2 linked regions of the Homo sapiens genome follow. The protein of the gene in region 1 purifies or fractionates together with the protein of each later gene. This does not show direct contact. Each region holds a gene or a part of one and is shown in the gene's direction. Other genes may lie near its edges.

Evidence for each region. The genes of interacting proteins can lie anywhere in the genome.
Region 2: the proteins of SYNGR1 (region 1) and TMEM87A purify together in Homo sapiens (affinity purification with mass spectrometry; one large-scale study listed by BioGRID and IntAct). This does not show direct contact.

The regions. Positions count from the first base shown.
Region 1 is NC_000022.11:39,382,364-39,386,873, forward strand, and holds the end of SYNGR1 (synaptogyrin-1), read left to right. Parts: 3' UTR 1-3,212; downstream 3,213-4,510. UniProt on the Homo sapiens protein: May play a role in regulated exocytosis. Modulates the localization of synaptophysin/SYP into synaptic-like microvesicles and may therefore play a role in synaptic-like microvesicle formation and/or maturation.
Region 2 is NC_000015.10:42,227,451-42,231,933, reverse strand, and holds part of TMEM87A (transmembrane protein 87A isoform 1 precursor), read left to right. Parts: intron 1-18; coding exon of another isoform or gene 19-90; intron 91-673; coding exon 674-742; exon of another isoform or gene 743-812; intron 813-3,113; coding exon 3,114-3,222; intron 3,223-4,164; coding exon 4,165-4,223; intron 4,224-4,483. UniProt on the Homo sapiens protein: Potential monoatomic ion channel gated by mechanical force, implicated in normal touch sensitivity through the generation of mechanically activated currents.

The DNA.
Region 1 (4,510 bases):
ATAGGGTGAGTGTAAACACCCACAGGACACTGGGGGCTGTCACCCTGCTCTGGCAGTCCTGCTAAGAGTGTCAGGGCCGTCTCCATTTTATGGTTGAGGAAACTGAGGTCTAGAGAGGTCAAGATTACTTGCCCAGAATCACTCAGGCAGCTAGTGATAGAGGTGGGGCCAAGCCCAGGCTGCCCGACTGCAGACCACGTGCTCTTCCCTGGCCACCCACCTCCTACCATCCCCACGCTTGGGGCTTCCCTGCTCAGTGTTACTGTCATTCTGGGAGGCCTTGGGGCCCTCAGCCCCTTGAGACACCCTGATTCTGCTGCATGCCAAGGGCCTGTTCTGCCCCAGCTGTTCCTCCTCCCCTGGGGACAGCCCCACCTCCGGGTCCCTCCACCCACATCCCCCTGGTCCTACCCCTGGCCCTTGGCCTCCTCCAAGAGGGCTCACCCCGGGTGCTGCTCTGTGCTCTGCGTGTCCCACAGACGCTTGTTCCAGGGGGCTCCAGCAAACCCCTTCGTGGTCTCTCAAAGGACTGATCACTGTCCTTGCCTCTAGGAGGGGTCACTAAGCCCTTACCTAGGGCTGGGTGGACAACAAGGCACAGATGAGGGTGTGACTGGCCCGAGGTCACGGTGAGTGAGTGGCAAAGCTGGCCCTGACGCCTGGGTTTCTTGGCCCCAGCTGCCCAGCAGGTGCCTCGATTCCCTGCCCTTGTGACCTCCCAGGAAACAGAACTGATCTGGGACACTATGTCACCTCTCCTCTCATCTGGGGTCAGTCAGGGTTCGGGGGCTGCAGCAGCCAAGCGCATGAGAGGTGTTTCCTTGGCCTTCCAGAAGGCCCACTGTGGAGCCAGCCTCCCTATGGGAGGCAGAGCGGCAAGGACAGGGCTTTGGAATCAGCCAGGTCGGCTCCTGGGCTGTGGCCGTGGAGAGACACTGCCCCCAGGATGACACAGGCAAGAGCCCCTGAGGCATGGGAGGCCCAGGGAAGACCATGGGCTGTAGGGGAGAGTGTGGCAGGTGACCCAAAGGCCCAAAGAGGGCCGTGGGGCCTGAGGAGGTCATAATCTCTTCTGAGTGGGGGCAGGTCGATTCTTGCACAAGGTGGGCTCTTCACTGAGCCATAAGGGACAGGGAGGTATGGGAGAGCGCTGGGGGCCCATCCCCCTGTCCACCCAGTGTCCACTGGCCTGTCCTTCAGGGAGCAGAGCAGAGCAGGTGGTGGACGGGCCCAGTGCTGGGTGTTTTCACCACCATCCCCCCATCCCCCATCTAAGAATCCTAAGAGGCAGGCGATCCCTCACCTGCTTACTCACTCAGCAGTTACCCGGCCCCTGTGCTGGAGATACCAAGGGCATGGGTGGTCCCTGCTTCGATGGCCCCAAAGCTGGGCCAGAGTTAAGGGAAAGAGGAGGAAGTCCTAAGCAGAGAAGTAGCACCATTATCCCCATTTAACAGAAGGGAAACTGAGGCTCGGCAAGCATAGGCGAGTTGGCAGTGGAACACGGATCTAAACTCAGGTGTGTCCAAGTCCTCCCAAAGGACAGCAGTGATGGAGAGGACCCCAGCCAGCTGTGTGACAGCTGGTTGTTGCTGACTTCATTTTCCAATCCGGAGAAGGGGCTCTGTCCACAGTCCCCCGCCGCCAGGTGGCCCACATGGGACCAGCATGGGGGCAGGTTATCTGTTGGCCTGAAGAGTGAAACCTGTACCAGGCCAAAGGTGAGGGCGTGAGTGAGGGCAGGAGTGTTTATGGCAGAGTGAAGTTCTGTGCCCACCACAAGAGGCTGTGAGATGTTCTGACCCTCACCCACTGTCCACCAAAAGCCTCTCCTGCTGATGGGCACTAGGAGACCTCAGGGTACTGCCCATCTGTTTCTCCTCGGGTGCCAGCCAGCTGCTGGTGATCCTCAGCCGGAGGGCAGGGTACCAGGTAAGCTTAACTCCATCTTGGGTGTTTGTGACAGGCCCTGCCTGCCACCCTAGGCAGGGAAAGCTGTCAAGACTCCTGCCAGGAATGGGGGGTGCTGAGTCATCTCACGAAGAATCCCTCACTCTTCCCGGGTTCAGCCCAGAAGCCCTTCCAGGCATGATCTTCCCCATCAGGCTGGGCTCTGGCAGGGACCTGCCCAGGATGGAGATGAGAGAGGGTGAGAGATGGAGGGCGAGATTTGGATGGGACCCAGGGCTCCTGACTCTGCCCTGGAAGGTTCATGGGGAAACTCGCTCCTTCTGTTGGCAGAGGACAGCCCCTGGGGAACCCCAGGCCCAACTCTGTCCGGTATCCCTTTTCCTCCCAGCTGCCCTCCCCTACTTCTCCCTTGCTCCCAAAGCTTTCCTTGGAGAAGGGCCCTCCTGCAGCTGGACCCTGCAGGGTGGCTCCCTCCTCCCCATCAAGCACAAGAGAGGGCCCAGGAAAAAAGGTTTCACATAAGTGTAGAGTCGCAAGGACGCTTAGAGTCGGCAGAGTCTGGGGTAGGGAGACAGCGACTTGTCCAAGGTCAAGCACAGAGGGAGAGGTTCAGGAGTCAGGTCTTCTGCCTTCTGAGTTGGCTCATCCTGGGCAGTCACAGACTGTCCTGCCTGCACGGCTCCTATCCACCTGGGGGTGTCGCAGTTGAGGGGCTAATTCCCAGGGGACTGACGTTAGTTCCCTACTCCATCCTTCCCTGGTGATTCTTGATCTTCAAAGCCTCGGGGATCCCAGGTTTCCCCATGTAACTGAGACACCCTGCCTGTTAGCCCTGGGAGACCCCTAACCTTGGCCCAAGACCCCTTTGATTCTCTAAGGAGCACGAAAGGGGGAATGCCCCTCCCAGGAGTTTATGGGAGAAGGGACTGGGCCGGCTGCCTCCCAGCGATGCACTTGACCTGACACTCCCCATGTCCTGGTGCGCACAGCCCTTGTCGGTGCCCCGGCCCCTCCCGCAGCGTTACTGCCTGTGTATAGTATAAATATATATATTTTCTATATATAAGATGTATAATATAAGGCTCCACAAATATATCTGTGTGTGTGTGTGCGTGTGTGTGCGGTGAAGGGCGGTCCCCATCCTGGGCCCCCACTCTAGACCCCCCCACCACCTGGTTAAGTCTCGAGTGAATCCAGTGGCCCCGTGGCACCCTCCTTTATGACATCCATCCATCTGTGGTGAACCAAGTGAAGGTGGTGACTTCTGGTGACATAGTAATAAAGTGAAGACTCAGAACCCACCAGCGATTGCAAGTGTGTCACCGTGTTTCTTTGTTCTTCATTCTGCGTTTGGCTTGGATGCTCCATCCCGTTTGTCTCCTTAGACAGGCCATGTCTTACTTGGTTATTATTGTTTGTTAATTTTTCATTACACAATGAACCTATGAATATATTATCTTTTTAAAAAGTAAAATTGGCCGACTGCAGTGGCTCATGCCTGTAATCCCAACACTTTGGGAGGCCAAGGTGGGTGGATCACCTGAGGTTAGGAGTTCGAGACCAGCCTGACCGACATGGTGAAAACCTGTCTCTACTAAAAATACAAAAAAAAAAAAAAATTAGCCGGGTGTGGTGGCAGACGCCTGTAATCCCAGCTACTCGGGAGGCTGAGACAGGAGAATCACTTGAACCGGGGAGGCAGAGGTTGCAGTGAGCCAAGATTGTGCCATTGCACTCCAGCCTTGGCATCAAGAGCAAAAATCCATCTAAAAAAAAAAAGGAAAATTATTACAGTTGAAGCCAGAGTCTCTTAGCTTACATGTGCACATGTCCACATACATGCCCCATCACCATTTCCTATCCTGGTTCCTTCCCCAACCACCAGGAGTAAACAAGATTAGATGCTTGGCCTCATTCCTTCCAGACCATTTCCATGCTTTTACATACACATGTTTTACAAGACATGGTTTTTAAATTGACTGGCCTTCAGCTGGGTGCCATGGCTCATGCCTGTAATCCCAGCACTTTGGGAAGTCAAGGTGGAAGGATTGCTTGAGCCCAGGAGTTCAAGACCAGCCTGGTCAACATAGTGAGACCCCGTGTCTAAACAAAACAAAACAAAAAACCTGGGCACAGTGGCTCACACCTATAATCCTAGCACTTTGGGCAGCCTAGGCGGGCGGATCACGAGGTCAAGAGACTGAGACCATCCTGGCCAACATGGTAAAACTCCGTCTCTACTAAAAAGACAAAATTAGCTGGGCGTGGCTGGGCGTGGTGACTCACACCTGTAATCCCAGCACTTTGGGAGGCTGAGGTGGGCAGATCACCTGAGGTCGGGAGTTTGAGAACAGCCTGACCAAAATGGAGAAACCTCGTCTCTACTAAAAATACAAAATTAGCCAGGCGTGGTGGCACGTGCCTGTGATCCCAGCTACTCGGGAGGCTGAGCCAGGAGAATTGCTTGAATCCAGGAGGTGGAGGTTATAGTGAGCCAAGATCATGCCATTGCACTCCAGGCCTGAGCAACAAGAGCAAAACTCCATCTAAAAAAAAAAAAAAAAAAAAAAATTAGCTGGGTGTGGTGGCCAGCACCTCT
Region 2 (4,483 bases), on another chromosome or scaffold:
CTTCTGCTGTTGCTATAGTATTTTTCTTATCCCTTGACTCTGATAGTAAACCTGGCCCTCTCAGCAATTGACGCCTGTGTTATTTTATGGATATCCTTTCAGTAATGCCTGTTGATTGGGTAATTAGGGTTATATAAAAAACATACTCTATATAAACTCCTGGAAACATGCAGCATAGTTTTTCAGACAGATAATTGCCTTACATTTTATTTTGGGGTGAGCTCTTATTTGTAAAATATTATAATTTTAGAAATTAATAATTCTTTGTATATGATGCAGTAATTTTTTTTAAATACGAGAAAAGTCTTTTCAGACTTGTAGCCAAAATTGCAATAATAGGAAATGATAGATTAAGGATGGGGCTTATAAACATTAGAACTTTTTTGGAATATGGTCACTTGTTAACATGGATCTTTATATATGAAAAACTCGTACTTAGCAGTATGTTTCGAGATTGTAAATGACAATTTATGTGAAATGCTTATAGCTGTATATTCTATGTGATGGTTTATAAGAAGGGAAGAATGATTAGGTGTCAAATGTTCTTTTTATTTTCTTTCAGTTCAATGCAAAAACTTTCCAGTGATTATGTAAATGCAGAATCATGTGGTGGTTTCTTCTCTGTGCCTCTCTAGACATCTGTTTTTCACCACTTCTTTTTCTTTGTCTGCAGGCCCAGACTGATCTTGCTTCCTTGGCCTTTATCCCCTTGGCTTTCCTAGACACTGCCTTGTGCTGGTGGATATCCTTCTCATTGGCTTGTTTGATGATGGTCCATTTTCTCCCCTTGAGATGGGTTTCCATTGATCTTTCTGCAAAGAGTTTTTATCAGTTTTGTTAATTACTCCTTAGTGTGGGGAACAGTGCATGCTAAGTCTTAACAACCTGAGGGTTCAGGTAAGCAGTTTTTTTTGTTTCTATTTTTTTAATTTTAAAAATCAAATTGGAAATTGGTGACTGTGGACCGAGCTCGAGATAAAATCTTTTGGCTTTTTTCTTTTAAGTGAGCATTTCATCTTGATTTTGCACTTCTTGTTTGTGTACCTAATCATTTAGTGTTAGAGTCACTGGCTGTGCTGGTCCTGCTCTGCCTTTTAGCCTCTAGCAATTCTTAAATGCTTTGAAACTTATGAAAAGATTTTGATCCTTAAAATTTGATTTCAGGAACTATGTAAGGTGCTTTGACTTTTCTGAAACTCTGTATGTTCAGCAGGTTTTAACCCTTATGGAGTGAGTGTTTTCTTGCCTCATTCAAAAGCTGGCTTGGAATTGTTTGAAGATTTCCACCCTTCAGAATAAATAATTGATTCATTTACAGGCAGAGTCAACCAGCAGATAACAAACAAGCTTCTATTTGAGCAATCTTTTTCTCCTGCTCTTTAAAATTAAATTTATATATTAGGGGCTTGGCCTGATGGCTAAAGGATTCAAGTTTTTGGACTTTATCTTATTGAATTTGTTTTGGTTTTTATATATTTGGTCCTATTAGCAGTTTTCATTATTACTGACCTGATAGATTGTGACTGTTGAAAAACTGTGAATGTAAACAAAATTGTTTTGTGAATTTGAGTGGGTTGCTGTATAAGAGTTTTCAGTTAAAGTGTCCTTGGACTAAATAGCCAAAGCTTTTCTAGATTAGTATCTTTCTAAGTGTTTTGTGAACCTCTGCAAGCGTTGAGAGAAGAGGGAGGTGGGAATGGATTGTACAGTAAGATAACCCAATGACTAGGTAACAGCTACGGCTCTGTAAGGGCAGAGCAAGTGCCAAATCCCTTATTTTTGTATCTGCTTCTCATTCTGAAAATTGAGCCGGGTGCAGTGGCTCATGCCTGTAACCCCAGCACTTTGGGAGGCTGAGATGGGCAGATTGCTTTAAGCTCAGGAGTTTGAGACCAGCCTGGGCAACATGGCGAAGCCCTATCTCTACAAAAAATACAAAAATTCATCAGGCATTGTGGCTTGCACCTGTAGTCCCAGCTGCTCGGGAGCCTGAGGCAGGAGAATTGCTTGAGCCCTGGAAGCGGAGGTTGCAGTGAGCCGAGATCGCACCGCTGCACTCCAGCCTGAGTGACAGAGTGAGACCCTGTCTCAAAAAGAAAAGAACATTGAACGTGAGAGCAGATACCATTTTTAGTAGTCACCAATTCCCCTCCTGTTTTTCTCTGGCAACTTCTACTTGAGAATAATGTTCTGAAAATGGAGAGTCATTGCTTTTGGAAGCAAACCATATGAGCTTCTCAACCAATTGTAAGGTCCTCTTAATTCAGGATAGTGCAGGCAACTGATGGCAGGTTCCTTAAGATGGCATGAGGGGACTGAGTGTAGATCTCTGGGAGATTATAGGCACGAGTATAATTATGACCCTCAACTAGATTTGCTGGACAGATGAGAACAGAGCTACCCACCTTAAAGGGAGAGAGAAGATGATGTTAACTCTTTGTCCCTTGCCTGTTACTCATGTTCACTTTATCTTCTGCCATTTCTCTATTTATTTTCTGTCTTTTTTTTTTGTTTCTCTAGAAAGCCTCTTCCTTTCTCTTTTTTATATTTTTTCTCTTGTGATTTTGTACATTCTTACTTTATTCTGGTTCTGTCTTCTCTTTAATGTCTCATTGAAAATGATGACTTCCGGCCAGGTATGGTGGCTCGTGCCTGTAATGCCAGCACTTTGGGAGGCCAAGGCAGGAGGATCAGTTGAGGTCAGGAGTTTAAGACCAGCCTGAGCAACATAGCGAGACCTTATCTCTACAAAAAAATTTAAAAATTAGCCAGGCATGGTGGCACATGCCTGTAGTCCCAGCTGCTTGGGAGGCTGAGGTGGGAGGATCGCTTGAGCTTCAGTGGTCAAGGCTGCAGTGAGCCGTGATTGTGCCACTGCACTCTAGCCTGGGCTAGACCTTGCCTCACAAAAAAAAAAGGAAAAGAAAATAAAATGATGACTTTCTTATTCATCTTGAGGTGTTTGTGAGATTAAGTGAGAATAAGAGAGCTATAAGGCCTCTGAGAGATCTATAAGTTTATTGGCATGACCCCAGATCCTTAAAGAAACCTGAAAACTAATTGGCTAGCTTACTGTTTTTTCCTGAATGTTGAATTCCTTGACCTGCAAACACATATTTATTAGCCTGACTCAAACAATGAAGCTATTAAAACTTCGGAGGAACATTGTAAAACTCTCTTTGTATCGGCATTTCACCAACACGCTTATTTTGGCAGTGGCAGGTAAGTCTGGGACTTTCTTCTTGGAGTTCAAATGTGATCTGTTTAGAATGGACATTCTTAACCTGAAAGGCCATGGGTGGACATAGAAAGTTTTGTATATTTCACTTGGAAAAGGGTTCTTAGCTCTTGTCAAATTCTCAGAAGGATCTGTGGTTTTTAAAAAGTTGAGAACCATTTATTTTATGTACAGTAGCTGGAAATCAACCTCATATTTCAGCTCTTCATTTATCCCTCTTCTATTTGCATTCTTTCTTGAGGCATTCTTTTTCTTGAGGTTAGTTAGCTTAAGTGCCAGAGAGTACTCCTTTTAGAAGACATTACCACATGTTTGTTTAGTTTTATTAAATAGTTGTAGAATTTTAGGGTGCATTGCTATTATAGTGGTTTTACATATGTCAGCAAGCATATGTAAAAAATTGACATTAGGTGGACTGTAACCAAACTAGGCTAATTTGCCTACCTCCTGACCCTTGTACCAGGAATAGTGAGGTCTGATTTATGATTGGAACTAGCTCTTCTGTTTGTGTTACAGTCGTTTTATCAGCCATTTTTTTTCATCTGACCAGCCAAAGAAAAATTAGCATTACTATACTAAGGATAAAAGGAGAAAAAAATTATATTGATAATGCTGGAAAGAGCTATATTTCCAATACCTTATTTTCCAACCACACTGGTTACTGATGTAGCCAGATGGCAAATAACATTATTACCAAATTATTCTTTAAATAGAGAAAGGATTGGCCAGAGTATGTATCATGAGCCTTGCTGATAGCAGGTATACAGTCCTTTTGTATTGAATACATTTGTTAAAATAACTGATAGAGTTGTGATGTATTTGGGGGTTCGGGGTGTGTGGGATTCCACTTAACCGGAAATGGGGGAATGTAATTGGGGATGTAAACCAGCATTCATACTCTGACCTGGTTTTTCATTTACTGTTAGCATCCATTGTGTTTATCATCTGGACAACCATGAAGTTCAGAATAGTGACATGTCAGTCGGTGAGTTATAAGCACATTTATGAATAATGTACTGTCTTATAAACAACTGATGGTGTTGATGACAGTGGTAAGGTTCTTCTAAGTTATATACCTTATAAAAAATTAGAGCTAGGTCTCTACTCTGAGGGTTGTGATACTTCCCTCCTCCTAAGTATTCTGTACTATCATGGTGCTTGGTATAGTAGTTTTTTGTTTGTTTTTTCTGACTGTATTCTCCCAGTTTTGGGAGAGAATTTTGTAAGTTATAACTACAGTGTGCT